2 linked regions of the Homo sapiens genome follow. The protein of the gene in region 1 interacts with the protein of each later gene in a pairwise test. Each region holds a gene or a part of one and is shown on either strand. Other genes may lie near its edges. The genes, in order: EPB41L5 and PALS1.

Region 1 (16,799 bases):
AGATTAGAATAGTGCAAGTTTAAATGCCCTAAAACTCACTGCTCTTATCAAGATTCAGCCATTTTTCCTGAATAAACATCTGCCAGATTGTTATATGTCTTTGGCTAATATGCAGAGTTCTGAAAAAACTGATTCTGAACATTTTTTACAGCCTTTTGTTGCTTCTATGGTGATGATTTTCAGAGATTTTTACTCTGCCATTTCCATCAACTTCTCTCAATACATTGTTTTTAGATACCTTATTTTTCAACATACTCACTGAACGGTATTCTGATTGACTATTGGCTGTTGCCAGGAAACCAAAACAATCCTCAGAGGATAAAGATTATAATGAGAAAATCCAGAGCCCTGTGAAGTAGTGTCTGCCTAAGTACCCAGCTTCATCTCCCACCACTCTTCCATTGTTCTCTGGCATTAACGGTGCTAAGAATAATGTCCCTAAACTGCACATTTTCCATCTTTGCATTACATTCTTTTAACTTTTTGAATTTATTTATTATTTATTATTATTTTTTTGAGACAGAGTCTCACTCTGTTGCCCAGGCTGGAGTGCAGAGGTGCGATCTCAGCTCACTGTAACCTCCGCCTCCCAGGTTTGAGTGGTTCTCCTGCCTCAGCCTCCTTAGTAGCTGGGATTACAGGCGCCCACCACCAGGCCTGGCTAATTTTTATGTTTTTAGTAGAGATGAGGTTTCCCCATGTTGGCCAGGCTGGTTTCGAACTCCTGACCTCAGGTGATCCACCCACCTCGGCCTCTCAAAGTGCTGAGATTACAGGCGTGAGCCATCACGCCCAGCTCATTCTTTCAACTTTTATCTCTATTTTATAAATGAGGAAATTGAGCTTCAGAGAGTTTAAGTGCCCTTCTGGAAGTTAAATAGCTAGTATATGGAGTGCAGAGACCAGAATGAAGGTCTGTCTAACTCTGAAGCCAAATTCAATATTCTTTGAGAGAAACTATTTTTAAAGGAACTATACAAATTTATATGTTTGAAAAAGTATTGTCATAACTTTAACCTGTACCTCATATTTCTCAAACACATTTTGGAAAATGGGCATTTAAAGTGTGATGAGAAAATTATTTCTTTAAAGGAAACTTGAGGTTTGAGTTATTTTTAACAAAACTCTAATAATCTCTAAACCCAGATTTTTTGTATCTGAAATTAATGTAACATTAAATAAAATCTTCTTTATGTATAGGAACAGGTTTAGAATAATAAGTTTTAAGATCTTGAAGAGATCTTAGAATCCTCTCTTCTAATTACCTCATTTTATTTTATTTTTTATTTTTGAGACAGTCTCGCTCAGTCACCCAGGCCGGGGTGCCGTGGTGCGATCTTGGCTCACTGCAATCTCTGCTTCTCGGGTTCAAGCGATTCTTGTGCCTCAGCCTCCCAAGTAGCTGGGACTACAGGCACCTGCCACCACGCCCGGCTAATTTTTTTGTATTTTTAGTACAGACGGGGTTTCGCCATGTTGGCCAGGCTGGTCTCGAACTCCTGACTTCAAGTGATCTGCCCGCCTCAACCTCTCAAAGTGCTGGAATTACAGGCGTGAGCCACTGCGCCCGGCCTAATTACCTCATTTTACACATGAGAAAACCGATGCCAGGAAAGATAATGCCTTGTCCAAATGAGTCAGTAGCAGGTGGTCGCCACTGATCTTTCTACCACAAGGTCTCCTAATACCTTCCCTGCCCCTGGTGTCAAGCAGTAGTCACAGGTATGGGAACAGTCACCTAAAGACCAAGTTACTCAATGTGTAGACCACTAATGTCCACTATCAACACACTGCAAGCTTGTTTGTAGGGCAGAATCTCAGGCCCCACCCCAGGCTTAAACCTTTTAATAAGATCCCCAGGTGACTCATATACATATTAACTTCTAGAAGCATTGAGCCTTGGCTCCTACCTTTTTCTTCCCCTGAGTCTCAGTCTCATCATGGTTTCACCAGTAGGCAAAACCAATGGTGAAATAGTTTCACTTCTGCCTCTCTATTACTCAGTATCATGAACTTGCCTGGAGCCATCAAAGCTTTTCTGATTTTTTTTTTCTTCCTAACAGTATAAATAAAGAGTATAGGCTACCGAGTAAGACACTGTTCCAGATAATCCTGAACAAAATGATGCATTAGGTCCTTTGCCCTGAGTAGCCAGAAGTAGGGGGAAAGCCTGGAGGCTTTGGAGAAAGAAATGACTTGTCTCCAACTCATCCTTCCATGTCTCTTCTCTGCATACTTCCAACCCCTGCCTTCCCCCATTCTGTTAGTGTGTCCTTCAATTAGCCAATGTGGCTAATCATTTAGTATGAATTAGTTTAAGGTCTTACTCCTCCCAGGAATATTTGCAAAGAAGGGAAGGGTGGAATTTCAAACATGCGATTCCGGCTCAGAAAAGATTTAGCTGGGTAAAAGGGAGCCACCAAATCACGTGAAAGTAGGCTTGGGCCGTGGCTCCATTTCAGGAGATCCTAGTCTTCCACTTGTAGCACAAAGGTTATCTTTGCTCCTAGGTCTGTAAAATTTGCATTGTCTTATATGTAGTATTGCATGATTTTGAAAACATGTTAGATGATTTACTTTGTGTAAGGCTCATAACTATTCTGTGGGGAAGCTGGCATCATCTTCATTTTACAGGACTTAAACTTGTTTGGGGCCTTTTAGCTTCCAAATCAAACTCCAGGCTCCTTGCAATATGCTAATAAAATTGTCTCTCTTATGGGCGTTTCTTTTTTTTCTTTTTTTTTTTTGAGATGAAGTTTCGCTTTCGTTGCTCAGGCTGGAGTGCAATGGCGCCATCTGGGCTCACCGCAACCTCCGCCTCCTGAGTTCAAGCGATTCTCCTGCCTCTGCCTCCCAAGTAGCTGGGATTACAGGCATGCACCAGCATGCCTGGCTAATTTTTATTTTTAGTAGATACAGGGGTTCTTCATGTTGGTCAGGCTGGTCTTGAACTCCTGACCTCAGGTGATCTGCCTGCCTCGGCCTCTCACAGTGCTGGGATTACAGACGTAAGCCACTGTGCCTGGCCATGGGAGTTTCTTATGACTGGTTTTAGTTTAGTTTAGTTTTGTTTTGTTTTGTTTTGAGACGGAGTGTTGCTCTGTTGCCAGGCTGGAGTGCAGTGGCGCTATCTTGGCTCAGACTCACCACAACCTCCGCCTCCCAGGTTCAAGCGATTCTCCTGCCTCAGCCTCCGGAGTAACTGCGACTACAGGCACGCACCACCGCACACGGCTAATTTTTGTATTTTTAGTAGAGACGGGGTTTCACCATGTTGGCCAGGATAGTCTCGATCTCTTGACCTCGTGATCCGCCCACCTCGGCCTCCCCAAAGTGCTGGAATTACAGACATGAGCCACAATGACCAGCGTGGTTTTGTTTGTTGATTTATTTTATTTGTACACATCTTTTAAATAGATAATGCTCTCCTAGATTCAGTGTTTGAGAAACAAATTCTTCATGATACTCACTCTTCTGAGGGTATTTTCTTTTCATGGCCCAATCTTGTTTCACCGGTACATTCGCTGCTTCCTCCCTACCATATCATCATGGCCATCACTGTTCTTTTGGAATGCAGGGCCACTTCAGTCTCCAAGAGAACTGATTCTTATGTCGGAATTCTCTCTAAGCCAATCTGTTCAGCATACTTTGACACGAATGAATGGCCTCACCAGGGTGGACCAGTTCAGAGAAGGCTGACTAAGGAAGCAAAGAGCCTGGAAATCAGAACAAGAGAAGATTTTGCAGGCTTGGGACAAGTGTCTTCAATGATTTAAAGGGTTGTGATGTGAAAGAGAGATTATGTTATTTCTTAGGGGTAGAGGTAGATTTACTGTGAAGATAAATCTGGTTTAAGCTTTAGGGCTATTGTGTGGCCTCCTTCCAAGACGCTGTACCTAATTTTGAATCTTTAAATTTGTGTTATTCCAACTAAAGACCTCTTCCCCCACCATCAAATTACAGTATATGAGTTACACAAAAACTGGATATACCCCTATCTGTGTGGAACCAGAGAGCAAACCAGGACCTAGGATAGAAGTGAAAATCTCACGTGAGGGTATTTGTTCAATATATTAGTTCAGTAAAAGAAAATCTTTCCATGGGCCAAGACAATGCCACCAGGAAGTGGGTTTTGGTAGGCACCTTCTTTTTTTTTTTTTTTGAGAGGAGTCTCACTCTGTTGCCAGGCTGGAGTGCAGTGGCGCGATCTCGGCTCACTGCACCTCCACCTCTGGTGTTCAATCGATTCTCCTACCTCAGCCTACCAAGTAGCTGGGATTACAGGCGCCCACTACCACGCCCAGCTAATTTTTGTATTTTTTTAGTAGAGACGGGGTTTCACCATGTTGGCCAGGCTGGTCTCAATCTCCTGACCTCGTGATCCACCCACCTCGGCCTCCCAAAGTGCTGGGATTACAGGCGTGAGCCGCCGTGCCAGGCTGGTAGGCACCTTCTATAGCTACCCACAGTTATTTGTCTCAGCAACATTCTCTCTTTGAGGCTAATAGAATTTGGATTTGTTCAGAAAGTTAAGGAGAGCCCTTGGTCTCCAGCTCCCAAGGGTGAATCCTGACTGGTCTAAGCCAGTCATGGTATTCTCTTTCCCTATGGCCTTTAATTGGTCTGAGTTAGGGCAGGTAGTGTAGTTCTGGCCGGAGACAGGGGGTGCTGGTACTTTCTTCTCTGAATTAAAAGACAAGGCTTCAGGTAAAGGTCTTTTTCCCCTTCCCTTTTATTCCTGAAACTCAAGAAAGCTGGAGATAAGCATCCGTCCTGTGGCCAGTATGCTAGAAGCATGAAAACCAAGGTCAACATGCTAAGGGTGGCAAAGCAGAAATGGTAAAGGGGTTTAGGATCCTTACAGCATTGTTGAGGAGCAGAACCAGTACTAATAGCTGCCTACCTCTAGATTACTTATGTGAGAAAAATAAACTCCTTATTTTTCAAATAACAGTTAAAATTTCCCATTACTTCCAGCCAAATGCATTTTTCCTTGATACAGCTATATTTAAGGAGAGGGCTTTCTCTGTCTCTGGCAGAAGTCAATTTTCTGGTGAATTTATCACGAAACGTGTGTTACAGAGGGTCCCTATGTCTAGAAGAGAGGATCTGGGGAGACAATGATTTGTTATTAGGAATAATTTCACATAATTAGAACATGAACAACTTTCTATGACTTGGGCCCTTAAGTTTCATCCTCCTTTCCTCAAGTCTTCATATTTCCTTTAGCCTATAACCATCTTTCTCAACAGATTTCTCTAACCTCATCCACAGCCTCCTTCAGTTCCACCTTTTTTTTTTCTGGAGATGGAGTCTTGGTCTGTCACTCAGCCTGGAGTGCAGTGGCGCCATCTCAGCTCATTGCAACCTCCGCCTCCTGGGTTCAAGTGATTCTCCTGCTTCAGCCTCCCGAGTAGCTGGGACTACAGGCACACACTGGCACGCCTGGCTAATTTTTGTATTTTTAGAAGAGATAGGGTTTCACCTTATTGGTCAGGCTGGTCTCGAACTCCCGACCTCAGGTGATCTACCCGCCTCGGCCTCCCAAAGTGCTGGGATTACAGGCATGAGCCACCGTGCCCAGCCCCAGTTCCATCTTTGATAGGAGATAGAAAAAAAGATTGAGCAGGATGGATGAAGAGGACACTGTTTTTCAAAACTGGTATGCTTTTCAACAATTTAGGAGAATAAGATATGTTTATAAGTATTGACAGAATTCACTTCCATTTCTGATCTGTAATCAGATAAACCAGAACTTTTCAAATGAGTAAACATCAGGTAAACATGGAAAGAGACAGTCTGGACAGGCTGAGGGGATGGCACTGAAGACCCTGCAGTTTTCCAACTGGCTAATCAGACCCCTGGGAAGAAGGAATGCTTTTCGGGGTACCTGGCCCAGGTGGGTTTGTTTGTTGTTTTTTGTTTTGTTTTGTTTTTAGACAGAGTTTCACTCGCATTGCCCAGGCTGGAGTGCAGTGCAGAGAAAGCAGCTCACTGAAACCTCCGCCTCCTGAATTCACGCGATTCTCCTGCCTCAGCCTCCTGAGTAGCTGGGACGGTTTTCACCATGTTGCTCAGGCCAATCTCGAATTCCTGAGCTAGAACTCTTGAGCCTTGGCCTTCCAAAATGCTGGGATTACAGGTGTCCAGGTGGTATTTTTTTAAATACTCTTTTTTTTTTTTTCAGACAGAGTCTCTGTCGTCCAGGCTGGAGTGCAATGGTGCAATCTCAGCTCACTGCAACCTCCACCTCCTGAGTTCAAAAGATTCTCCTGCCTCAGCCTCCCTAGTAGCTGGGATTACAAGCATGTGCCATCACACCCAGTTAATTTTTGTATTTTTAGTAGAGACGGGGTTTTACCATGTTGGTCAGGCTGGTCTCGAACTCCTGACCTCAAGTGATCCTCCTGCCTCGGCCTCCCAAAGTGCTGGGATTACAGGCATGAGCCACCACATTCGGTCTAAAGGACTTTATTATGAAAAATTTTAGATAGAATAGTTTAACGTCCCCATCACCCAGCCTCAGTTTATGGCCCATTCTTGTTTCATCTATACCATTGCTGCTTCCCCCTGCCATATCATTTCGTTTTTTTGTTGAGATAAAGATGCAAGATGACCAGCAACAATTCCTCCCATCCCTGAACACCCATGCTGCTCCTCTCATGAAGAGTGATGAAAATATTCCACAATTAGATTGTGGTTTGTGGTTCTACAACTCTGTGAAAATACCCAAAGCCATGGAAGTGTACACTTTAAGTGGGTGCATTATATCTCAATAAAGATGTTTTTAAAAGGTGGAGAAGGAAAATTTCTCTATTTTAATAATATTTAAAGAAAAAAAAAGAGGTAGAGTCTCTTTCATCTCCTTGAAACTGGGCGGCCTCTGTGATTTGCTTAAACCATTAACAGGCAGCAGAAGGGACGCTCCGTGACTGCTGGGCATAGCCCTTCATAGGCCTCAGAGCTTCTGTTTTCACTGTTTTGCCACACCAGCGGATCTGCAAGAGAGTAGCCCAGGCAGAACTCAGCTGTTCTTTGCAGCCACCCCAGCGGAGATGCCACACAGACCAGTGAAACCACCTTGGCAGCTCCAGCACCTGTTGAGCTGCCCAGCCAACACCACATGGGGCAGAGATGAGCTGCCAAGCCTGTCTACTACGTTTTGGGGTGGTGGAGGAGTGGGCAGTGCCAAATCCCGAGAAGAAGCTCAATGAGTATTTGTCTCTTTTCATTTCAGCAAGCAGAGGGTCCTCAAGGTAACACCTTCCAGTGGCTCCCCCACCTCTCTCAGAGCTCTAGCCAGGGCCCACAAGGCCCTACATCTTACCCCTTTCCTCTCTGACTGTCACCTCCTCTTCCTCTTGCTTCCTCACTTCTAGCCACACTGGACTTCCTTGAAAAGACAGACCTGTCCCCTTGCAGGGCCTTTTGCCCTTGCTGTTCCCTTCGGTTCTCCCCAGATGGCCACAGGGTTCCTCCCACACCTCCTCTAGGTCTTCATTCAAATGCTACCTTTTTTTTTTTTTTTGAGACTGAGTCTGGCTTTGTCGCCAGGCTGGAGTGCAGTGGCGTGATCTGGGCTCACTGCAACTTCCGCCTCCCGGGTTCGAGCGATTCCCCTGCCTCAGCCTCCTGAGTAGCTGGGACTACAGTCGGACGCCACCAGGCTCAGCTAATTTTTGTATTTTTAGTGGAGACGGAGTTTCACAGTGTTGGCCAGGCTGGTCTCGATCTCCTGACCTCGTGATCCGCCCGCCTCGGCCTCCCAAAGTGTTGGGATTACAGGAGTGAGCCACCGCGCCCAGCCAAATGCCACCTTCTTATTGTGACCTGCTATGTAAAATCGCAAACCCTCACTGCCTGTGGTTATTCCCTACTTGTACTTTTCTTTTTAGCATTTACCAATGTCTGACAGTATTTAATTTCACTAATTTATCTCGTTTATTTTATGTCTCGTTTATATTCCTGCTATAACGTAAACTCCGGGAAGGATTTTTGTCTGTCTTGGTTGTCTGTCGTATCTCGTGTCTAGAACACAGAACTCACAGTAAGTAGGCACTTCAATCAATTACCTGTAGAATGAACGGACTGAATGTCACCTTGTTAGAGTACCCTCCTGACCACACTCTGCTAAGCAGTAATCTTTTATTTCTCTTTCCCAGTTTTATTTTTCCTCATTTACACTTAATCACCTTGTGACACCTATTTGTTTACTGTTTCCCCAGTAGAGTGAAAGTCACTTTAACAGCAGAGATTTAAATGTATTTTAATCCCTACAAAGGAGAAAAAGGGAGGAAATACGTGACAGGCTCTCAATAAGTATTTGCGAAGGATTTAATCTCTTGAACGAATGGATGAATGAATCTAGCAGCCAGCTCCACCAGCCTCCTTCGTGATAGGACTAACTGGGGTCTGTCTGCGGACGGGCGCCTCCTCCGCGGGCGGAGGGCCGCAGCGGGAACTGGGTTTCGGCAGCGCCCCTTTAAACCAGCCGCGGACGCCCGGCTGCTGGCGCTAGTTCCAGCCCGGCCGGGCCCGGCCTCGCCGGTTTCTCTCCAGTCGCCGCGCCGGCCAATTTCCGGGGCGGTGTCATCGCCCGTTTAAGAGCGGAGCGCTCCGCCCTGGGGGCGGAGCTGGGAGGGAGCTTTAAGGGGTGGACGGGCGGGAGGTCGGGGTCCTCCGGGGATTAGAGCCGGTGGGCTCGTTGTGGGCGCCATTTCTCGGCGTCTACCGAGGAGCCGCCCCTTTCTCAGCCTTGCTCGGCTCTTCCCCGCTCTGGTCGCCGGGGCTGCGCCGTCCCCAGCTCAGGTAAGCGCGAGGCCCGGCGGCGGCGCCGCAGTACAGTCCGCTGCGCTCCTAGCCGAGTGGACCCTTCCTCGCCCGCGCCTGCGGTAGCGGCCTTGTCCCCGGGGAGGCGGGCGGGGGCCGCACCCAGACCCTAGGGCGGCCGGCCCCTCTCTCGTCGGGCCGGCAGGGCATTAATCCCGCCGGAGGGAGGGGCGGCGGCGGCCAATGAGGCAGGGCCGCCGAGTTTCGGTCGATACCGCGCGACGGGCCGGGGCGGAGGGCCCGGGGCAGCCGGGTTAATGTTTGCCGAGCGGACGCGCTCCCCGAGCCGCGGGTACCCCTCGCTGGTCCGCTGGGCTGCCGTCCAGCGGGAGAGACAAAAGTCGCAAGGGAAGGGGAAAAACGAACTGAGTTTGTGTCACTGTCTTGGTGGACTTTTCGAGCTAACCTGTATTTGAGAAAAACTTCAGTCTCTTGGGAAAGGAGAGGCAGGTGTGTTCCCATGAAAGACGAGGTCTGAAGGTCCCGCCCCGCCCCCACCCGGGACGGTTGTCGTGCTAATGATGGGTTCTTTGGTGTGTAAATGTTAATTGTGTCTGTGGTTACTCGAATTCTACCTAAGAGCGAGACCCAACTCTTAAAACGTTTGGCAATATTTTAGACTAATATTAAAAGTTTTTAAAGAATTACGGGGAAAATTCCCATAACCGTGTACATTTGTAATGTAACCCACAACTGCATTAACTCAGTTTCTAACATAACCCGTTGCTGAGCTCTAGTTAACCTTGTTGGATTATTTGTGCATGTAATATGCTGTGCAGGCTTTAGAAAATAGGTTAACATTATTCGAAAACGATATGCGTAACTGCTGTTGAATTACTCGCTTGCATTTTCTTTATTGGGAATACTGGGACAAAATATAGTGTTACCTTAAATGGCATTTGCTGTATGTTATATTGCTTTATCAAAAAGCAATTAACCAACCATATTGTGGCCACCAGTCATGTAAGAGTATACATATTTCATGACTAACTTTTGGGTTTTGGGTACTTTTTTTAACCAACTTCTGATAGGATTGCTTAAATTTGCATTTTATGATTCTAAAGGAAATCCTTCTAGTTAGGAACTAGAGTAGAAACTACTGTTTTTTGGAAGCCACATAAACCTACCATCCAAAAATTCCACTGTGTCATTCTAGTGTGTCAGGCGAGATGCGGGTTAAGCCAGCTGTTGGGCCAAAGTAGTGAACAAGCCAGACGAAGTCTTTGTCCTTGTGTGTGAGTGGGGGAAGTAGTCAGTAAAAAAGATAATAATTAACAGATATTTAATTACAATTTCTTTGTTATAAAGAAAAGGCTAAGAGTACTGAAAGAGATGTCGAATTTAGACTCACAAGTCTGAGATTGCTTTTCTGAGAATAAGACATTTCAACTATAAGTCTGAAGTTAGTCCAGTGAAATGGGAGCGGGTGGAAGAGAGGTCAACTGGAAAAAGAGCAATCCAGAAAGGTGGAACAGCTAATGAAAAATGGTCCAGAATTAAAAAGACTCTCCGGCCGAGCAGCAAGAGTACAAGAGCAGAGCAAACAGAGGGGAGTAGGCTGACAGATGGGTCAGGCAAGTAGGAGGAGCTGCATCTAGGACCAGGGCCATTAAAGATTTTAGAACAGGGATCAGATTTGTGGTTGCCAAAAATCCAGTGGCTGCAACATGAAGAGCGCAATTGGAAGAGTGCAGGTGGGAGGGGAAAAGTGAGTATGAGAAAACTTTTTTCACAATCATTAAAAAAAAAAAAAACCCACAACTTTTAGTGATCCATTCATATTATTTTTTTTTTCCATTAAAAAAAATTAGGCCAGGCGCAGTGGCTCACGCCTGTAATCCCAGCACTTTGGGAGGCCGAGGCGGGCGGATCACGAGGTCAGGAGATGGAGACTATCCTGGCTAACACGGTGAAACCCCGCCTCTACTAAAAAAAATAACAAAAAATTAGCCGGTCGTAGCGGCGGGCACCTGTAGTCCCAGCTACTTGGGAGGCTGAGGCAGAAGAATGGCGTAAACCCGGGAGGCAGATCTTGCAGTGAGCCCAGATCGCGCCACTGCACTTCAGCCTGGGCAACAGAGCGAGACTCAAAAAAAAAAAAAAAATTAGGTGGGGTCTTGCTGTGTTGCCCAGGCAGGTCTTGAACTCCTGGCTTCCAACAGTTCCGCCTTAGCCTCCCAAAGTGCTGGGATTACAGACATGAGCCACTGTACCCAGCCATATATTCTTGTTGTGACTTCTGACATGCCCCTCTTCAGAGAGAATCTCAACAGTTTACGTGTGTGTCTGTTTAGCGTGTCTGTGTGTGTGCATGTATCCCATCTCCGTGTAGGATGAAACTCTCTTCAGTGTTCTGTGATTTGATTTTTCACTTAGAAATTTTGTCATATCTAAGTCAACTATTTATTTAAAACAACTGTATTATGGCTGGGCTTGGTGCCTCATGCGTGTAATCCCAGCACTTTGGGAGGCTGAGGTGGGAGGAATCCGATTCCCTGAGGCCAGGAGTTTGAGACAAACCTGGCTAAGTAGCAAGACCCTGTCTCTACAAAAAATCATTGAAAAAACGTTAGCCCGGTGGGATGGTATGTGCCCGTAGCCCTAGGTGGGAGAATCCCTTGAGCATGGTAGATGAAGGCCGCAGTGAGCCCTGGGTGCTAGAGTGAGACTGTCTCTAAAAAAAAAAAAAAAAAAACATAAAAATAAAACAACTGTATTGTATGCTGTTGTGTGTACCATAACTTGTTTAACTGTTTGCACATTGATGAACACATTTAAAATTTTCTTAAATCAGTTATGCTCCGAAAAATCCTGTTCCTACAACTTAAAGCACATGTGTGATTTTTTTTCTTTAGGTTATCCTTCCAGAAATAGAACTGTTGAGTAAGGAATATGCATGTTAAAATTTCTAGTATTGGTCCGGCGAGGTGGCTTACGCCTGTAATCCTAGCACTTTGGGAGGCCGAGGCGGGCGGATCACCTGAGGTCAGAAGTTTGAGACCAGCCTGGCCAACATGGTGAAACCCAGTATCTACTAAAAGCACAAAAATTAGCTGGGCGTGGTGGCTGGTACCTGTAATCCCTGCTACTCAGGAGGCCAAGGCAAGAGAATCTCTTGAACCCGGCAGGTGGAGGTTGCAGTGAGCCGAGATCGCGCCATTGCACTGCAACCTGGGGGACTAGGTTGAGACTGTCTCAAAAAAAAAAAGAATTAAAAAAATATTAATAGCATGGTCAAGTCTCCCTCCAAAAAAGGCCAACGTAGGAGGATTATTTTTTCTCACATTCTTTTTTACACTATCTTGAGTCTTTAAATGACAGACAATATCTTATTTTTTTTCATTTGGATTTTCTTGGATACTGTTAAAGGTGTTCGTTTTTATGAACATCTTTTAAATTATCTTTTAGGACTTTTTCGTATCTTGCTCTTTGTTCTTTTTTTGATGTAGAGTCTCAGTCTCACTCAGGTTGGAGTGCACTGGTGGGATATCATAAAATGTTTCTTGGGAGATATTGGTGGAGTTAAAAGGAATATGTAGGGATTCTGTGACACAGGATTTTAGAAATCTGGGATAACAAGTACAGTCTTAGGCAGCTGAAATGAGACTGGATAGCAAGTTCCAAAGGGAGAAATACCTGGAAAAAAAAATCTGGAGAAAGAGACTGGGACCAGGTATTATATATGAGTGTTTGGAACACTGGAAAGTTATCTAACTAAAATTTTAGTTATTTCCTTGGGATTAGTTTACCTAATTACGCAAGAGTATACATGTGTAAAATGTGTAGGCTAATCTTCAGTGTATAGACATTTTAATATGGTACTATCTTAAAAATCGGATTTTATCGGGTTTATAAATAAATCTAGTTGAAAAAGTCATTTTATCTGAAGGCTTCTCTTGAAAAACAGCATTCTCCTGAATTCTTTTGCTCCCTCTCCTGAGGCAATCATTTTCACATTTTAAATCAAATGCTCTTACTGCTAATTGTTGATTTTTAAATTCTAGTAATGACCTGTTGGCTTGCTGTTACGCATCATGAGGAATTAGCTCTTTCCATATCTGTATCCCCTACCTCTTATTATGTACCTCCTGTCTGTTGTGGTTATTGTTCGATCAGTATTTAGTATTTGACATTGAAATCATTAGCAGCTGAGTCATGTAGTGTATTGTGATTTACTTTTCCTTTTCTGCACAGCTTCTTGTTTTCTTTGGAATTAATAGTCTTTTTGGCTTATTTGTTGGCTTATGTGTACTTAAACTCTCTTTGTTGTGCAAATGAAACACATGAGGATAGCAAAGTGACTTTGATTTTGTGTTTCCATTTAGTGTGCTATGTTTTAAAACCTGTTTTAACTGTTTTGATTAACATTAATGTTCTTTATAGAGTTAAGGAAAAAAGCATTAAAGTACTTTGACATTAAAAAGATTTATGTTAAGTAGTTATTTAAAATCTGTATGTAATAGAATATTTGACAAAACTTAGGAAATTTGAATTATATCTGTATTTTAGCTGAAATAGGTGATTGTTTTTGTGTTTTTATTATGAATGCTCAGAAAAGAAATGGAACTTCTCAGGATTTTTTTTGAGACAGAATCTCCCTCTGCCACCCGGGCTGGAGTGCAGTGAGGCATCTCAGCTCACTGCAAGCTCCGCCTCCCGGGTTCACGCCATTCTCCTGCCTCAGCCTCCCCAGTAGCCGGGACTACAGGCACCCGCCACCACACCCGGCCAATTTTTTTTTTTTTTTTGAGACGGAGTCTTGCTCTGTCGCCCAGGCTGGAGTACCGTGGCGCCATCTCGGCTCACTGCAAGCTCCACCTCCCGGGTTCATGCCATTCTCCTGCCTCAGCCTCCCGGTAGCTGGGACTACAGGCGCCTGCTACCACGCCCGGCTAATTTTTTTTTGTATTTTTTTTTAGTAGAGACGGGGTTTCACCATGTTAGCCAGGATGGTCTCGATCTCCTGACCTCGTGATCCACCTGCCTTGGCCTCCCAAAGTGCTAGAATTACAGCCGTGAGCCACCGCGCCCGGCCACTTCTCAGAATTTTTATGATCATCAAAGGATACCTTAGTGTCTGACATCATCTTGGGATATACAAGATGTTGTACATATAATTTATCTATTTAGAAGACCTGATGAACTTCATGAATGTTTGCCTTCTCCTGCCAAATCAGTTCCTGATAAAATGGTCCGGTAAATTTAGAAAGCTCCAAACTGTGGCTGTGTCTTATACATACAAGTCTTTTAAAACTTTGAATTAAAGTAACCAGCTTTTTAAATTAATTAATTTACTTTTTAATTGACAAAAATTGTGTATATTTATCATTTATAATATGTCTTGAAATATTTATGAAAAGCCAGTTTTAATGATTTTTTTTTTCAAATTTACTTGACCAGGAGCCCTTTTTGTTTTTTATTTACTTATTTTTTGAGACAGGGTCTTGCTCTGTTGCCTGAGCTGGAATGCAGTGGCGCAATCCCAGCTCACTGCCGCTTTGACTGCCTGGGGTCAAGTGATCCTTCTGCCTCACAGCCCCTCAAGTAGCTGGGACCACAGGCATGCACCACCACACCTGGCTAATTTTATTTTTAGTAGTGATTAGTTCTCACTATGTTGCCCAGGCTGGTCTTGAACTCCTGGGCTCTAGCAGTCCTTCTGCCTAGGCCTCCCGAAGTGTTGAGATTGCAGGCGTGAGTCACTGCACCCAGCCCAGGTGTCCTTTTTAGTAGCATTTCTACTAATGTTCACAGGACTTGACTAAATAATGCCATTTGACTGACTGCAAGTTGTGGAGAATCTCATTTTTTTCCTGATGCCATCTTTTTCTCTCTGTTTTTATAGTGACAAAAATGCTGAGTTTCTTCCGTAGAACACTAGGGCGTCGGTCTATGCGTAAACATGCAGAGAAGGAACGACTCCGAGAAGCACAACGCGCCGCCACACATATTCCTGCAGCTGGAGATTCTAAGTCCATCATCACGTGTCGGGTGTCCCTTCTGGATGGTACTGATGTTAGTGTGGACTTGCCAGTAAGTAGGTCTTGCTGAGCTCCAAATTCTGTTTGCGATTACTGTCTTTGTTTGTTTGTTTAAAAGCTTTGTATTGGTAACTTCTGGATGGAAATAAGTAAAGGTATTATGGGTTAGTATAGATCAGGCACTGTAACATTCAGGTACATGGATCAGATAACCGTAGACCAAAAGTACTTGGATTGGTGGTATTTCTCTTTGGAATTAGTGGCGATTACCTGAAACATTTAAATGACAGGGCAGTTATTGGCATGAGTCTGTTTCATGTGTCTTTCTATGTGTTCTTTGTGATGGCAGCACATGATGTAGTCTAGTGGATTTCTGACAATCCTTGTTGAACCATTATTAAAACGTTGTGAATCTTTGAGAATAACAACACTTAAATGTGTACTGTAAGACTTTTAGCTTCTATGCACTTCTGTATTTTTTAAAACTCTCCTTACTTTCTTCTAAATAAATATTTCCCCACAATTTGGTTTACTTGCAGACATTAATGAGGTGAAGTGAGAAAAAGGACTTTCTTCATACCCCTCAGCTCTGACTGCCTGTCTCTTTGCTCCTGAAGTATTTTGCATTGTAGGTTTTTCATACACTGTAGTCTTTATCTCAAGACAGGCTGTTGTAATTATATTTGCATTTTGGATAGATTTTTTTTTTTTCAGAAATATATAATCATAACTCAGTGTGAAACAATCTGACATGTTTGAAAGGGGTTAGCTTATTTTTTTACAGGACTTTTTGGGTGGAGGAGGGGAAGAAAAGGTTGGCTTTTTGGTTTTGGGCAGTTGAATATTTTTCTGAGTTGCTTGCTAATACCAAATCTCTTTCTCATGTCTTTGTTCTGCATTCAAAGACTTAACGGTAAATTACATCATTTGATGTGAGCTTCATAGGATATTCCTTAATGTCTTTTCTCCCCACAGACTTTTTAGTACACACTCATCTACCCAAAATTCAATTTAAAAAGTCTCTTTGGGCAAAGTGATAGCCTACGTGCTGCTGTAATACATAATTGAATAAGCTCGGGAAGACCTTAAACTCACCAAGTGAGAGTATAAGGAATTGGAGAGTTTGTTTAAATGGATGTTCTGATTAACTTAATAATTTGGAATGTATTAGATATGTACATTATACATTTTAAAATATTAGAATATGATAAAATTAATCAAAGACTCAGGATTTCTTGAAGTGTTTTGAAGTCATCATTACGTGTATTTGTTATCTTTGTCTATAAGAATGTATATTTTTAGGGTTTTTGATTCTGGACAACTTGAAAGCATCTAAATTTTCTTCCTGTAAGTGCTTCTTGAGGGTTTATCAGACATTCCAACATGAGATATTTTGTGAGGATAGTTTTCATACTCATTTCTTATTTGATAGGAATCTTAAGAGTTTTGTTTACTATTTCATTAAAATATCATTGGATATGTGGTGAAAAGCCTGAGATTGCTGTGTAAGAGACTGGAAAGAAATTTCTTATTACCTAATGTTTGAAGTATGAAGTTTCAGGGTTGTTGATGGACAAGCTGATAGTAGGAGAGTAGAATTTGTAAAAAAAAAAAAAAGAGGTTTTTAAAAACGCAGTGCAGTATGGAGGAGAAACAACACTAGCTTTTAAAGTGGTGGAACAAATGGCTAGTTACTGATCTGGAATGGTTTCCTAAACTTTGTATGCTTAGCTGGGTGTATGTGATGCTTGATCAAATTTATAAACTAGCTGGTCTCTCATGGGGACAATTGTAGTGAAACAGCTGGAGATATAGATTGGACTTTTTGTGAAACAAGAACAGTTGTCAGCCAGGTGCAGTGGCTTATGCCTGTAATCCCAGCACTTTGGGAGGCTGAGGCAGACAGAACCCTTAGGCCAGGAGTTCGAGACCAGCCTGGCCAACATGGTGAAACCCATCTGTACTAAAAATACAAAAATTAACCGGGCG
Region 2 (15,844 bases), on another chromosome or scaffold:
TAAAAAACATTGAACATGTCCCCTCCCATATTGTATATATATGTACTACTCTACTTACTATCCCAAATTACAATATAGGACAAGTTTTATTAATAAGTAATTCTAATAGCCTTCTTGATTGGTTGAAAAACAATATTTTGGAACATTGGATCCCTAAAAAACATGTAAATAAACTGATGAATCATTATCCCTGTACCCTATCCCCATTTCATCATTACGACTTCAAATGTGAACAGCTTATAGATATTAAAAAAAGGAAAAAGAAAATGTTGGGCTGGAAGATAATTGCGTCCAAACAGTTCTACAATTTGAAATGTAAACAGAAGATTTTGTTTTGTTCAGAAGCCAAATACTGTTTTGATCAGATATACTGTTCTGATATTATTATAGCATTATGAGGCCCTGGACCTTTCCTATGAGGGTCAGCTTATCTCCTTCATTTTAAAGGGGCTTTTTTTGTTGTATGAGAAACAAAATAATTTTGACACTAGCAGGAAAGATTGGTGGAGATAACTTCTAGAACTGGTAAGAATTAATCAGTGGAATATATGGATAAAAGTCATATAGTATCTGTTAAGGCAATACCCAGACTTTAACTCATTCAAATCATTAATTTTTCAGATGTGAAATAAATTTTCCTTAGGAAAAATTAATAAGAGCCTTTTCCTCTTAATTTTAGGAAAGTAAGAGCTTTTTCTCTTAATTTTAGGGTATATTTTAGATGGGACTAGAGAAACTTGTCACATAAGTAAAGCATGTTCTCTTCCCAGCCTACACAAAGAGGGGCCCTGTTCCAAGCCAGTTAAATTAGAATAGTTAAGGGATGAGAACTGCATAGGCAAGAGTACATGGAAAAGCATCTCTGGGTGATTTTGTTGGCCTATGGCAATGGTCATAAATGTAGATATTCCCTCCTCACGGGTCTTAATTTCTCTCAGGGTAGTAGTTCCCTAAGATTGCTGTACCTAATAATTACCCAAGGAACCTGATTAAAATTCAGAGTCTGAGAGTCTGAGGTGCGGCATGAGAATTCATCATTTTAATAAACATCCTAGGCAGGTGATCTGAGCAAAAACACTTTGAAAAACAACATACTGGGTAGGCTTTCAGAAAGTGATTTGATAAAATTGTCAATCAAGATTGACAAGTACTTTGATTTGATCTTTGAAAAATCTGGTAAAATTGATCTCTCCACTACAAGTGATGCCAAAAATTCCATTTTTAGATTCTCAAGGTTTTTTTTTTTTGGCAAAAAAGTAACAAACAGATTCTAGAAGTATTATTGATAGGATGGTGCTCAAGCACTTTTTTTTTTTTAAAGAAAACATATTTCTAGATAAAACTACATAGGAGATTTTTCCTCATGCCAAGATTATAAATTTGTATAATCTTTTTGCTCAATCTCTTAACTGTGTTTTGATTCACTGCTATCCCACACAACTTTCTAAAATTCATTTTTAGTGCTGACTGAGAAAGATTTCAAGATTTTAATAAAAACTGTTTTTTCACATCTAGAATGAGGTTCTTTAGGGCACTTTGCATTTAGGATGAGCCACAACACTTTCAAATTTGGTGTGTTATCTTAACTATATTTGGTACAAGATTATATACTATGCTATTCCATGTATATGAATTAATATACAGGGGAAAATAATCAGTGTTTCTAGAAATCAGGATGATGTTTATCCTTGGAGGGGATGGGATGGGTAGTGATGGAAAGAGACCAGGTGGGGCCTCTGAGGTGTTGGTGATATGATGGTTGTTGATTTGGATGCTAGTTATACAGGTCTGTTTAGTTAGTGAAAATTCACTATGCTATACACTTATGATAATGTGTATTTTTTGTGTATCAAAAGTTACTCCCAAAAGGCATAATAACATTTAAGTTTTGCTGGTAGCTGTTTAACTTTTATATCTTTGTATTTTTAACCAGATCATTTTTTAACCTTAGTTTCAGTTTGTATATTAGGACTCAGCTTTATTTCCTATTTATAGAAGTTAATAAAATATTCTTTGAAATTAAAAAATATTCTTTAATGACAAGCCAAAAATTTTTTAAAAAGCCATTTATCTGTCTATCTATCTATCTATGTCTATCTTTGTCACTTAGCATTTTTTCCAATTTCATATAGTCTGTCATCGACAGTACTCATTTTAGTCAGTGTCTCAAGTGCTTAAAGAGCGCTTAAAAAGTGCCCCTTTTGGGGTAGACTGGTATTACTTTTATTACATATAACCTCAATTATGGTGAGAGTAAAACACTTAAAGCTAAGGCCAGGCGTGGTGGCTCGTGTCTGTAATCCCAGCACTTTGGGAGGCCAAGGCAGGTGGATCACCTGAGGTCAGGAGTTCAAGACCAGTGTGGCCAACTGGCGAAATCCTGTTTCTACTAAACATACAAAAATTAGCTGGGCGTTGTGGTGAGTGCCTGTAATCCCAGCTACTCGGGAGGCTCAGACAGGAGAATCACTTGAACCCGGGAGATGGAGTTTGCAGTGAGCCAAGATTGTGCCACTGAACTCCAGCCTGGGCAACAGAGCGAGACTCCGTCTCAAAAAAAAAAAAAAAAAAAAGCCAAAGCCAAATAATATTTGGATAGAAATGGACCTTGAATTCTTAGACTGTTTGTCTTTTGCTTGGTTCGTTGAGCCTGAACTTGGAATTTAACCTATGTGTGACAGAAATGCTCACTGCAAATATGTGGGCAGAAATGCTCATTACAAATTTGTGTGAGATCTCATTAGATGAAGTAGATTTCTTATAGATTTTGGAAGTGTCACATGCAACTTGCCCAGGTTAGGTAAAAATTAGACATGGGGAAATTAAAGAGAATTTTAATTCCTTTATAACTTCTTAGAAGTAAGAATAGTCTGTCATATCTTACAGAGGCATATTGGAAGAAATGGCATACAGAATAGCTTATAAAGTTCATGAGAGTTACTACCTGCCCTTAATGCTAAGTAGAATAGCACAATTCTTTGATTTATTCTGATTTCCAAAAACACATTATTAGCAAAAATTATAACTTGTACCGTTAATAATATGTCAAAGCCTACATAGCATACAAATAAGAATTGATTATAAACTTGATTTAGTTAATTTTAGTCGTTGATAGTGTGCTTGTTTCATGAACATATCCTTTAAAAGAAACGCCAAGAGAGTTTAAGGCATAGTTGGACTGACAGTGGGGTCAAGAGACAATGACAGCCCCAGGGAAGCTCATATTTACCTGCTTAGATGAAGAGATGTGGTAAGGTAAAGTGTACCTTTTCTAGTAGCTGTGGTTTGGAAATTGCATACCTTATTGCAGAGTCATTGTTTTCACAGGTCAGGATTCTATTCTATTTCTGCTTCTCTCAAGCTTTTGAGGCACCTTGTACCTCAGCTTGTAGCTGCGAACAGTGTTGTGGATATCCTTGTACATATCTGCAAGTCAACAGAGAAGATAACAGATCAGCCTGAAAAAATATTGCCCAAAAACACTGTTACTTAACACCCTTCTTCCAACTACAATTTCTTTGCACTGATGAAAAATTGTGGCCAAGTGCAGTGGCTCACACCTATAATCCCACCACTTTGGGAGGCTGAGGGAGAAGGATCGCTTGAGGCTAGAAATTTGAGATTATCCTGGACAACATACTGAGATGCTGTCTCTATTAAATTTTTTTAAAATTAAAAAATAATAAAAAATTTGTAGCATTTAAATTGTATTCATATGAAACATTTTATATTGCCATTTATTGTTGTTTTTGCCCTTTTTATCTTTTAGATCCATGTAAAAGCTCATTTTGACTATGACCCCTCAGATGACCCTTATGTTCCATGTCGAGAGTTAGGTCTGTCTTTTCAAAAAGGTGATATACTTCATGTGATCAGTCAAGAAGATCCAAACTGGTGGCAGGCCTACAGGGAAGGGGACGAAGATAATCAACCTCTAGCCGGGCTTGTTCCAGGTAAGACACAATATGGTAGAAAGTACATAATATTAAAAGAACATTGAAAATGCAAGCCTTCACAAAGAAAAACTCACTCTTTCATGCCTCTATTTAATAAAGTATTCCAGTTACTTTTTCGTGTAGTTGGGTTTTTATGTTGTACCTGCAGCGTAAGTATATTAAATAGAATGTGGCCAATTCTTTGGCCTTTAGAATGGAATTATGTATAACTTCAGCCAATCCCATATTGTAGTACATTTCCTGTATACATATTAAGATGACCGTATTATCGAGGCAATACAACTTGTATTATACTATATACTATATACTATGACATTAATTGGAGCATCAACATGATTTTTGAGAAGGAAAGATGCATAACTTTATAAGGAGTCAGGAAAAGTAACATCATAGAATTTATTGTACCAAACGTGATCTTAGGGCAGAAACAGGATGCTCCAAATTTTTTATTGATGAAACTATCCCTAACTTAGACTAAACTAAAACTTTAGCTTACATTATAGATTAAGATTATTAAGGGGACATGTTTCTGAGAGTTAAGATGATACAAAATAGAACAAAGTACAGTCATGCATCACTTAACGACAGGGATAAGTTCTGAGAAATGTGCCATTAGGTGATTTCATTGTTGTGCAAACATCACTGAGTGTATTTACACAAACCTAGATGATATAGCCTGCTGTACAGCTAGGCTATGTGGTATAGCCTATTCCTCCAACCACCATCATATATATGGTTGGTTGTTGACTGAAATGTTGTTATGCAGTGCATGACTGTATGTAGATATAATTATTTTCTACAAATGGCTCTTACAGTTCCCAGGATGGCAGTAGAATAAAGAAAGGAGAGCAGAACTAAGGGAAGTTTAATAAGCTATCGGAGAAGGCAAAGGAATACATACAGGATGATAAAAATAGGGATATAGAGTAAAGGGATAATAATTCATCCATTTATTTGTTAATAAATGCTGTTATGTCTGCACCATGTAAAGCACTTTGCCTGGTGCTGAGATAAACTTCGCTTACATACTTTACTTGAAAGCATATCCATTAACACTTATGTATATTTTTTTCTTCTGTGTCCCCTACTTTATAATATTTTCATGATATTGTCTCTGTTATAATTCTTTCTACTGTATATGCTCAGTTTATAAACTTCTTGATGTCAGAGGCCAAGTCTTATTTGTTTTAAATCCAGATAATATATGTTAAATTAATGAATAAAAGATGATTTTAAAAGTTCTCAGAAAACAAACAAAAATTAAAAAAAAAAAAAATAGTTCTGCCAGAACTGCTGTTTCTGAATTAGACCTTTCAATGCTTTGCTGTAATGTTTTTCTGGCCTTATCTTTTATCTACAACCTTTTTTAGCGATCATCCCTCCTACTCACACCAGAAGATTTTAAGCATAACAGATTTGGCTATAGACTTAGCCTTACACTGGATTTGACAACAAGCAATAGTTTAGGGGAAAAGAAGAAAAGGAGGGCATGAAAAAAAAGACTGAGAAATATTGACTATGAGATACATAGTAGGAACAGAGGAAGTTGTCCAAAGATTTTAGAATAAGTTATAAGGAATCTCTTTTATCTCTGTAACTAAGCCAAAGAGACTTTTCTGGGTACAAGAGATTTCAACATAATATTTACATTTATTCTTTTTGAGTATAAGGTCACAGAAAGCTTCAAATTTCTCACTTTAAAACTCAGAGGCTAGAAACAGATTTTGTCTATATCAGTCATATTTTAAGGAAGGAGGAATGGACTTCTTACATTTATTTTAGAGTATGATGCTAAAACCCGTGATTCTTCAGAGTAACAGTTACAGGACATTTCTCTAGAATCTTGGAGTGTTGGGTAGCCATTGTGGTTCTGCCTCAGGCTTGTGCCAAATATCAGTATGGTGTCTTCCTACCATGCCGAACTTTAGCCCATAAATGTTTAGAACTAGTGTTTGTTGATAGATTGATTTTCTGAAAGTATATAGATTCCAATGATGACATTTCTAAGTCTTTTTATAAGACTAAAGATCTGCCTTAGAGTTTGACGATGGCTTTCCATCAGAATTAGACAGATTTTTTTAAGAGGTCATTATGAGGCTGGCCCTGGTGGCTCACACCTGTAATCCCAGCACTTTGGGAGGCTGAGGTGGGAGGATTGCTTGAGCCCAGGAGTTTGAGACTAGCCTGGGCCACATAGTGGCATAGCTGACATAATGAGACTTTGTCTCTACAAAAAATTTAAAAATTAGCTGGGCATGGTGGTGCGTACCTGTAGTCCCAGCTATTCAGGAGGCTGAGGTGGAAGGATTGCATGAGGCTGGAAGGTTGAGGCTGCAGTGAGCTTTGATCACACCAGTGTAACAGAGCAGTCTCAGAAAAAGAAAGAAAATCATTTCCATCTCTCATTAATTTCTGCCTCTATTTCAGAATAGCCTATAGTTCATACTACAAAAAGTGCCACAGAAGTACATCATTGTAATGTTTTACATTTTTAATATGTAAATGATTAAAATTACTTTGTTCTTGATTTTTAAAAATCGGTTACTTATTTTTAATTTTTTTTTTTTTTTTTTTTTTTTTTGAGACAAAATCTCGCTCTGTCTCCCAGGCTGGAGTGCAGTGGCATGATCTCAGCTCACTGCAAGCTCCGCCTCCCGGGCTCATGCCCTTCTTCTCTCTCAGTCTGCTGAGCAGCTGGGACTACAGGTGCCCACCACCACGCCCAGCTGATGTTTTGTATTTTTAGTAGAGATGGGGTTTCACCGTGTTAGCCAGGATGGTCTTGATCTCCTGACCTCGTGATCTGCCCACCTTGGCCTCTCAAAGTGTTGGGATTACAGGCATAAGCCACTGCACCCGACCCCTTTAAATTTTAATACTCTTAAAATTTTCCTTCTAGTAATAGTTACTTGTACTAAGAATACAGTCTTGGCCGTGCACAGTGGCTCATGCCCCTAATCCTGGCACTTTGGGAGGCCAAGCAGGAGGATCACCTGAGATTAGGAGTTTAAGACCAGCCTGGCCAACATGGTGAAACCGAGCCTCTACTAAAAATACAACCATTAGCTGGGCATGGTGGCGGGCCCCTGTAATCCCAGCTGCTCGGGAGGCTGAGGCATGCGAATCCCTTGAACCTGGAAGGCGGAGGTTGCGGTGAGCCAAGATTGCGCCACTGCACTCCAGCCTGGGTGACAGAGCGAGACTTCGTCTCAAAAGATAACCAGGCTTCCTTTAATGCTTCTTATGTGTATGGAAGTCAGTATTAATCTTTTTGTTAGTACACTTACGAAATGCACTAAGTTCTACAGATTATCCCCACCTATGTAGAATTTGCTTATTGATTTTTAAGAATCTCTGGCTTTACACTGAAAAAAAGTAGATTTAAAAATAAAATAAAAAAGTGGAACCTCAACGTAATTCAGAATCTTCTAAGTGAAGCCACTTGTATCCTATAGGAAAAGACATATTTGATTTAAAGTAGAAGTCGGAAAAGAAAACCTCTTTCAAGGTCAGGAACCTTGAAAGCCTCCTATATTAAAATATTAATTTTGTAAGGAAAAGCACGTTTTCCATTTATATAATTGGTAACTTAAGGGTGGAAATAAAAAATGGCTAACACATATACATACACAAAAGAAGAGGAATTGAGAATAATGCATGCAAGGGAATATACTGAATGGTTTCTTGGAATTGAATATGGAATTGAATATGTGATGAATGCGCACATGTTGTTTTGGAAAAGTTAATTCCTAGAATTGATATCCTTAATTTGAGATAATTCTAAAGGACCTAGAACCATTGTAAGATCCAGGATAGTACTTTTCCACAAAGTAAATGCTCAATGAAACCTTTTAAAAAGTTGAACTATTAAATTTTTAAATATTTTAGTAGATGATATGTATTCTAATAATACATATGGGATTGATTGAGCAGAGTTAATATTTTAAAAATTTGGAGGCTTACACATCATAGCTGACATTACTCCTGTGTTGGCAAAAGGATTTGGAAGGGAATATAAGTGAAGAGATATGTCTAGTGTTTTCCCTTCTTGATTAAAAAAAAAATTCTTATCCTTTTATCTTAAATATTTTACCCTTCTTTTTCTTTCTGCTATTAAGGGAAAAGCTTTCAGCAGCAAAGGGAAGCCATGAAACAAACCATAGAAGAAGATAAGGAGCCAGAAAAATCAGGTTAGACACTTGTATTTGACATAAGTAAATGGTTTCTTGGGTCTTCATCTGGAGCCATGTGTGAATCTGCATATTAGAACCGTGAAGAAGTACTCAGGGAAAGAGTGATACAAGAGGCAAAACTGATTATCTCAGAACTGTAAAGAAAGGATAAGATTTAAGTATTAAAGATTATCTGTCTATACTGTGTAGTTAATTGAAAATTGTAAATGCTTTCCTGAAAAATAGTCTTTATACAAACAGTGTAATAAGTATTTATAAAAGTAAATTAAAAACAAGCTGGGTGTGGTGGTTTGCACCTGTAATCCCAGCACTTTGGGAGACTGAGGCGGGAGGATCACTTGAGGCCAGGAGTTCAAGACAAGCGTGGCCAACATATGGAGATCTCGTTTCTGCAAAAAAATTTAAAGAATAAATGAATGAATAAATAGAGTTCTTCAATTTGAGTTATGTGGTTTTGTTCACGGGAACACATTTATAGTTATGTTTATGATTGCTCAACAGGAAAACTGTGGTGTGCAAAGAAGAATAAAAAGAAGAGGAAAAAGGTTTTATATAATGCCAATAAAAATGATGGTAAGTTCTACTCTCAGGGATAGGTGGAATTATATCTGAAAGGAGTCTAAACCTAGTCCTGTTTTGCACCTTAATGTTAAATATGTGCTTGAGAAAATCATTTAGTAGAAAGTATTTTCTTTTGGAATCCTGTGAGTAAGGCAGTGTTTTGAATTCTGGGGAAAACTGATACAAAAATTCAAGTACTATTTAGCATATGTAGTATTAAATTGACAGTTTCCTGTAGTTTTTTTCTACTTAAACTCTTTGCAAAAATTATACTTCTAACAAATTCTTACAGAACATACTTGAAGTAAAAACTATGTCCTCTACAATAGCTCATGTCACAGAAGCAACTCATTCCTGAGAACCCACTACCTGCTGGCTAAGTCAGACACACAAGAGAATTTTAGTTTTATTTTGATTGATTGCTAAGATTAAAAAGCTCGAAAGTTGTAGCTTCTCTTAAAATCAAAAGCTCTGATAATGTTGGGCTAGTATTCCTAGGTGACAACAGTCTGCTGGACCTGAGTGATGACTGTTGCTCTTATATCAAGCACCTGGTGTCTAGTTTAACAGTCTCTACCACTCCCAGTGTTTTATTAACCCAACCTGATTTACTGATTTTATTACCTCCTTAGTTTGTTTTTATGGGCATTTGAGTTTGCTACTTCTGTTTGGTTCACATTAGAAGCAACCCAAATAATAAAGCAAAGGCTTTCCTTCTTATGTAATTTATAAGGCTTTTCTGTCAAGAATTTGAAATATTTGGGAGCAGCACACATTAAACTAATAAAGATAAAACATTATAGATCATTATAATATTCCATAAAAGCTAAATGAGGTTTGATCAACTTTAATAAATTTTTTTCTAAAATAAATATCCTTTAATGCTAATTGACAGATTATGTAACTAAAAAGATTTAATGAGTTTTAAATTTTATCCTCTATATTTGTGATTAATATCTCTTTTATTTTTTGAAACAGACTGAAGTTAACTAGTCCAGCTCTAAGAGCTACTGTACTGTAGAAAACGTGGCAAATCTGAACCTTATGGATATACACACTGAGTCTATAAATTAAAATGCTACCAGTCTTGATTATACGTGTTAGAATAAACTCAGATTTTTCAGAGAAAATCATTTTGAGAGGAGAAGGAATTACATTTGCTGTTTATGATGATGTCATCATCATGAATATTTTTAAATAAATAACTACAATTCATAATAACTGCTGTATTCCAGGGCAGTAACTATATGATGTTGTTCTCACAAACTCCTTGAGGTTACAGAGTAATAGATTCAAGTTTAGATATTAGGCCGGGCGCGGTGGGTCATGCCTGTAATCCCAGCACTTTGGGAGGCCGAGGCAGGCGGATCACGAGGTCAGGAGATGGAGACCATCCTGGCTAACATGGTGAAACTCCATCTCTACTAAAAAATACAAAAAATTAGCCAGGCGTGATGGCGGGTGCCTGTAGTCCCAGCTATTCGGGAGGCTGAGGCAGGAGAATGGCGTGAACCCGGGAGGCGGAGCTTGCAGTGAGCCGAGATCGCGCCACTGCACTCCAGCCTGGGCGACAGAGCGAGACTCCGTCTCAAAAAAAAAAAAAAAGTTTAGATATTAAAGTGATTTGCTGAAATTCTTAACAACTAATACATGATTGGTTGAGCTGGAATTTAAACAAGTGTAGTTTGAGCTCCTGCTCTGTGCCAGGCTCTGTGCTGAGCATTGACAAGCCTAAGATGGTCCCCTAACCTCATGGAAATAGAGCTGAGGGAGTCTGACTTCACATCTGATGCTCCTTCACAGTCAGGAGAAGTAATATGAGTGAGGACTTGGCAGGCTACTAGTTATCTGCTTTTGTTCTTACCACTTGACAGCTCTGGTTTCATCTGGATTATGGGCTTTAGGAATGTTACCCCACCTGTCATAATTTATACCTCATTTTGATTCATGACTCTGGGTTAGCATTCCAGAGTAGAGTAAACATAAATGCAGAAAGTGGAGATAGCATGCATATGGCCTGTTTTCAAGTTATACAACTACAGCAGGGGTATCCAATCTTGTGGTTTCCCTGGGCCACATTAGAAGAAGAATAGTCTGGGGCCACACGTAAAATACACTTAACACTAGAGATAGCTGATGAGCTAAAAAAAAAAAAAAAAAAATTGCAAAACAATCTCACAGTGTTTTAAGAAAGTTTACAAATTCGCATTGGGCCCCATTCAAAGCCGTCCTGGGCTGCATGCAGCTCATGGGCCACGGGTTGGACGAGCTTGAACTATAGGAAAGTATTCCAGCTTTCTCTGATAACACTGGTTGTAGCCACTATATGTAAATGTCGGTCTATGCTAGCCATTGTATTCAGCGTATACATTATGTCTGATTCTTAAAACAACCTTCTTAAGTAGAATATTAATATCTGCATTCTTCAAAAATGACGGATATTACTCTTACTAGTTCATTCCCTGGTACCGCATCCTTATTCAAAGTATTGACTGCAAATTAGCTGTTTAATGTAAGAATCAGTATAATTATATTGTATTAGACATTCAAGCATGAATTTTTTATTTCAAATATGAAATGAGATAAAAATTAATAGAAGGAGTATTATATTGTTGTCTGATTCATTTTCATGATACCCTAGCAAGGATGTAATGACAATAAATTGTGCTTTTGTCTAATTTTGGGTGAAGATCTATGAGTATTTATATCTTTAATACATGGCCATAATTTTGTTTGAAGAGCTTAACTTTTTTTTCCCAAAGATTATGACAACGAGGAGATCTTAACCTATGAGGAAATGTCACTTTATCATCAGCCAGCAAATAGGAAGAGACCTATCATCTTGATTGGTCCACAGAACTGTGGCCAGAATGAATTGCGTCAGAGGCTCATGAACAAAGAAAAGGACCGCTTTGCATCTGCAGTTCCTCGTAAGTTTGAATGCATTCCCATTTTCCTGTGCTTTTCAATTTACCAGCTCAGAACCTAACTATATCATGTAGGGAAATTTTTTATTCATTTCATTAAAACACTGTTGTCAGTGAAAGAGGAACTTTAACCAAAGATTTTGACAATTTTTAAATTAAAAATAGTCATTATTAAGAAATTTAAATTTGTCCTTCAAGTATGTACTGATTATTTTCTAAACAAATTTCAGTTTGGGCCCCTTATAATTTCCTGTTCCATAGAGAATCAGTTCCTGCTGCTTTAAAGTGATACAGAAGATAGAAACTTAGGCATAATCTGAAACAGAAGTTATAAGATTATATGGTACCTAATCTTATGGAGATAAACTTTAGGAGAAGATGAGTAGTAGTGTTTTAAATGCAGGATGAAGTAACTTGAAGTGTAAGCATAAAATGTATTGAGATAAATATAACTATTACTAAGATACTACAAACTCATTTTTGTTCATTTTTCAATCTACAAAAAATAAAAACAATGTTAAACATGTAGGCACTTAGCATTTTCTCAGTTTATTATTTTATAATCTGTGTTACAAAATAGAAATTCTTTCTGACTAGCAGAATTATCCCCTGTCCTCACTCTAAGCCATGCCTGTTATTTCTATCTGATTTTGTTTGCCTAGATACAACCCGGAGTAGGCGAGACCAAGAAGTAGCCGGTAGAGATTACCACTTTGTTTCGCGGCAAGCATTCGAGGCAGACATAGCAGCTGGAAAGTTCATTGAGCATGGTGAATTTGAGAAGAATTTGTATGGAACTAGCATAGATTCTGTACGGCAAGTGATCAACTCTGGCAAAATATGTCTTTTAAGTCTTCGTACACAGGTAAAGCTAGAACTTTGTTTTAGGGTTTGAACTTAGAAGGAATGTCATATAGAGTAATCTAGTGGAAGCTATATTTTGGTCCAAGAACAGCGCGACCTAATTAAGTTCTCATACGGTTTTTCCCACTGATTTGCTATCTGAAATCACACAGGTTGCTAAATCTCTTTCAGTTTCCTCAGAGGGAAAACATATACATACTTACATATACAGGTTGACTATCTCTTATTCAAAATGCTTGAGACCAGAGTGTTTTGAATTTCAGAATTTCTCAGATTTTAGAATATTTGCATATATATAATGAGCTATCTTGAGGATAGACCCAAGTCTGAAATTAAATTCATTTATCTTTTATATACACCTTATTTACTTAGCCTGAAGGTAATTTTATTTTTCCTGGGGATATTGAATAAACTGTCTGCTCCTGTATTTTGACTATGACCCGTCACATGAGGCCAGGGTAACGTTTTCCACTTGTGCTGTCATGTCACTGCTCAGAAAGTTTCAGATTTTGCATTTCAGATTTTTGGATTAGAGATGTTCTGCTTGTATATATGCTTGTATGTATGTTCTGAAACTTAAAATACAGTAAATATAGTATTGGTAGTACTTTAATTTGAGTCTATGAAATAATTTCCCTTTTCTGATTCCGATATGAGAAAAATTAGAAAATTTCAAGATTATTTTTATGGTTTAAATGCCATTGTTCAAATATTAACAAGTATCACAGTGAATGCTTGGTTGTATGAAAATAATGAGACCTCAGTTTCACTTATTTGGCAGACTAAGCAAAAGTGTAAAATTACTAACTAGTGCCTCTTAGCTTTCTATTTAAAATGATAATTTTAGGACGCCAATGTGGGTGGATCACTTGAGTTCAGGAGTTCCAGACCAGCCTGGGCAACACGGCAAAGCCCCATCTCTACCAAAAATTAAAAAAAATTAGCCAGGTGTGGTGGCATGCACCTGTGGTCCCAGCTGCTTGGGAGGCTGGGGTGGGAAAATCGCCTGAGCCAGGGAGGCGGAGATTGCAGTGAGCTGCACTGCACTCCAACCTGGGTGACAGAGTGAGCAGAGTGAGACTCTGTCTGAAAAACAAAAACAAAAAAACCTAATTTTAGAAACTTGGAGTTTTTAAGAAACTCCAAATGTTACGGAAAATTGTTTAATTTTTGTAGACCATACAGCTTTAGCATACGACTTTCCTTAATGTGGTAGAATCTGCTGCTCATGTCAAATTAGGCAACATAGTCAGTGGTCATTAAAGAGATGTACATAAAGGAGAATTGACTCTAAAATGGCTATTCTAAAATAGTAATTAGGGATTTTTGTTTGTGTTTTAGTGGACAAATGCACTTAGGCTCTACTATTTCAATTATAAATTTTTGATTTAAGAGAAGTATACATGTTTTTACTAAATTTCTTTAGAGTTCTTTATATTATTTGGGCAAACAGGTTTTTAAAATTCTTATTTCTCCAGAAAAAAGGGCTAACAGATTTTAACAAAGAACTCAGCATATTGTTTTAATCATCTTAATGTTTTTAGATAGCAATGGCATATTCCTATAATCTCCATTTTGATAGAGCGTGTCAGTTTGAGCACACACAGTCATGCATTGGTAATCAAGTGAAAACTGCAATCTCCAGATTCAAACATAGTCTACTTTTTCTTGGATGTGCTTTTCTTGAATTGTCTTGCACATGTGAAGTTATGTTCTATGATTTTGCTTATATTTAGTGTCTGGCACATAGTAAGGCAACTTGTATGATTCTAATTGCTCCAAAATTGATTTTTAATATGGTTATTGTAATCTGTATGTGATCTTATTATTAAAACTAGGTGTTTTAATATCACATAGTTGTCATCCTTCAGTATCATTCACTTACATTTCATTACATAAAAGAGCAAGCTAAAATTATATGTATATAATATGTATTATATGTGTATATATATACATATATACACATATATACACGTGTGTGTGTGTGTGTGTGTGTGTGTGTGTATATATATATATGGCTTCACAGTATATTCTTACAGTGAATGGTAGGATCTTAAAAATATTGTGAATTGGGCCAGGTGCAGTGGCTCATGCCTGTAATCCCAGCACTTTGGGAGAGACCAAGGCAGGAGCATTGCTTGAGGCCAGGAGTTCAAGACCAGCCTGGACAACAAAGCGAGATCCTGTCTCTACAAAAAAGTAAAAAGTTAGCTGAACATGGTGGTGCATGCCTATAGTCCTAGCTACTGGGGATGCTGAGATGAGGGGCCACTTGAGTGCAGCAGATTGAGGTTGCAGAGAGCTGTGATCACACCACTGCACTCTAGCCTAGGCAACAGAGCAAGTCCCTTAATCTAATATATATATATATATATATATCAGTATTATTAGGAAGTAATTAAATGATGCAAATTATTTTAAAAATCAAAATGTCTCTTTACAGTCATTGAAGACTCTCCGGAATTCAGATTTGAAACCATATATTATCTTCATTGCACCCCCTTCACAAGAAAGACTTCGGGCATTATTGGCCAAAGAAGGCAAGAATCCAAAGGTAAAGTTTTCACACTATTGTACTATTCCATTGAAGGTAAACATGAAACAGTCCTGGTCTAATTTGTCCTGGTGCTTAAAAGCTACATTAGCTTGAGCTTTCAAACTGATTATTTTTTCTGTAATATTACTTGCCCAAAAATTGCCATGGTTGCCACTGGGTTGGACTATGGCAGCTTTCCAAAGTTGGGGCATCTACATTTGGTAACCTTTGAGCGTCTTCACATGGGTCTGTGACATTTCTAGGGAGATGTGACTGCCACCAAAGTTATCAGCCAACTCTTCAGGATTACTGACTTTTCTCTGTAGATACTCCACATTTTCAGGGAGCCAAATTTGAGTGCTCTTGCTTTTCTCTTCTTTTTATCCCACTGAAACTTTATGTTCTGCTTTTTTTCTCCCTTTGGTCTTCTCACATGGTTTGGAACAGAAAAATTTTTTTAAATTATTTTAGATCTATGCTAGATATGGTTGAGGTAGTCCATGTCATATTAAACATTAATAATTGACTGATAACATGTTATTAATAAGACAGCATTGACTTTTTATTTAAATATGTAAGATGGTAACTCTGTCAGGTGACTTACTGTATCAGAGTAACATGTTCTTCCTTGTTTTTTTTGCTCCATATTTATTAAATAGATCTACTTTTGAGAGGGCTCACTCAGATTGCCTCATTTCATTGACTATGCCTTTAAATCTCCTTAAAGATAGTCATTAAAAGCATATTTACACTCCTTTCTTTTGATTGTTTTTTTTGTTGTTGTTGTTGTTTTGGTCGTTGCTGTTT

What was found.
Region 2: the proteins of EPB41L5 (region 1) and PALS1 interact in binary tests that used the Homo sapiens proteins (3 or more experiments, as listed by UniProt).

Annotation. Positions count from the first base shown.
Region 1 is NC_000002.12:120,004,403-120,021,201, forward strand, and holds the start of EPB41L5 (band 4.1-like protein 5), read left to right. Parts: upstream 1-8,674; 5' UTR 8,675-8,808; exon of another isoform or gene 8,809-9,279; intron 9,280-14,527; exon of another isoform or gene 14,528-14,546; intron 14,547-14,674; 5' UTR 14,675-14,682; coding exon 14,683-14,862; exon of another isoform or gene 14,863-14,866; intron 14,867-16,799. UniProt on the Homo sapiens protein: Plays a role in the formation and organization of tight junctions during the establishment of polarity in epithelial cells.
Region 2 is NC_000014.9:67,308,758-67,324,601, forward strand, and holds part of PALS1 (protein PALS1), read left to right. Parts: intron 1-3,769; coding exon 3,770-3,953; intron 3,954-8,074; coding exon 8,075-8,146; intron 8,147-8,650; coding exon 8,651-8,722; intron 8,723-11,472; coding exon 11,473-11,640; intron 11,641-12,299; coding exon 12,300-12,502; intron 12,503-14,944; coding exon 14,945-15,055; intron 15,056-15,844. UniProt on the Homo sapiens protein: Plays a role in tight junction biogenesis and in the establishment of cell polarity in epithelial cells.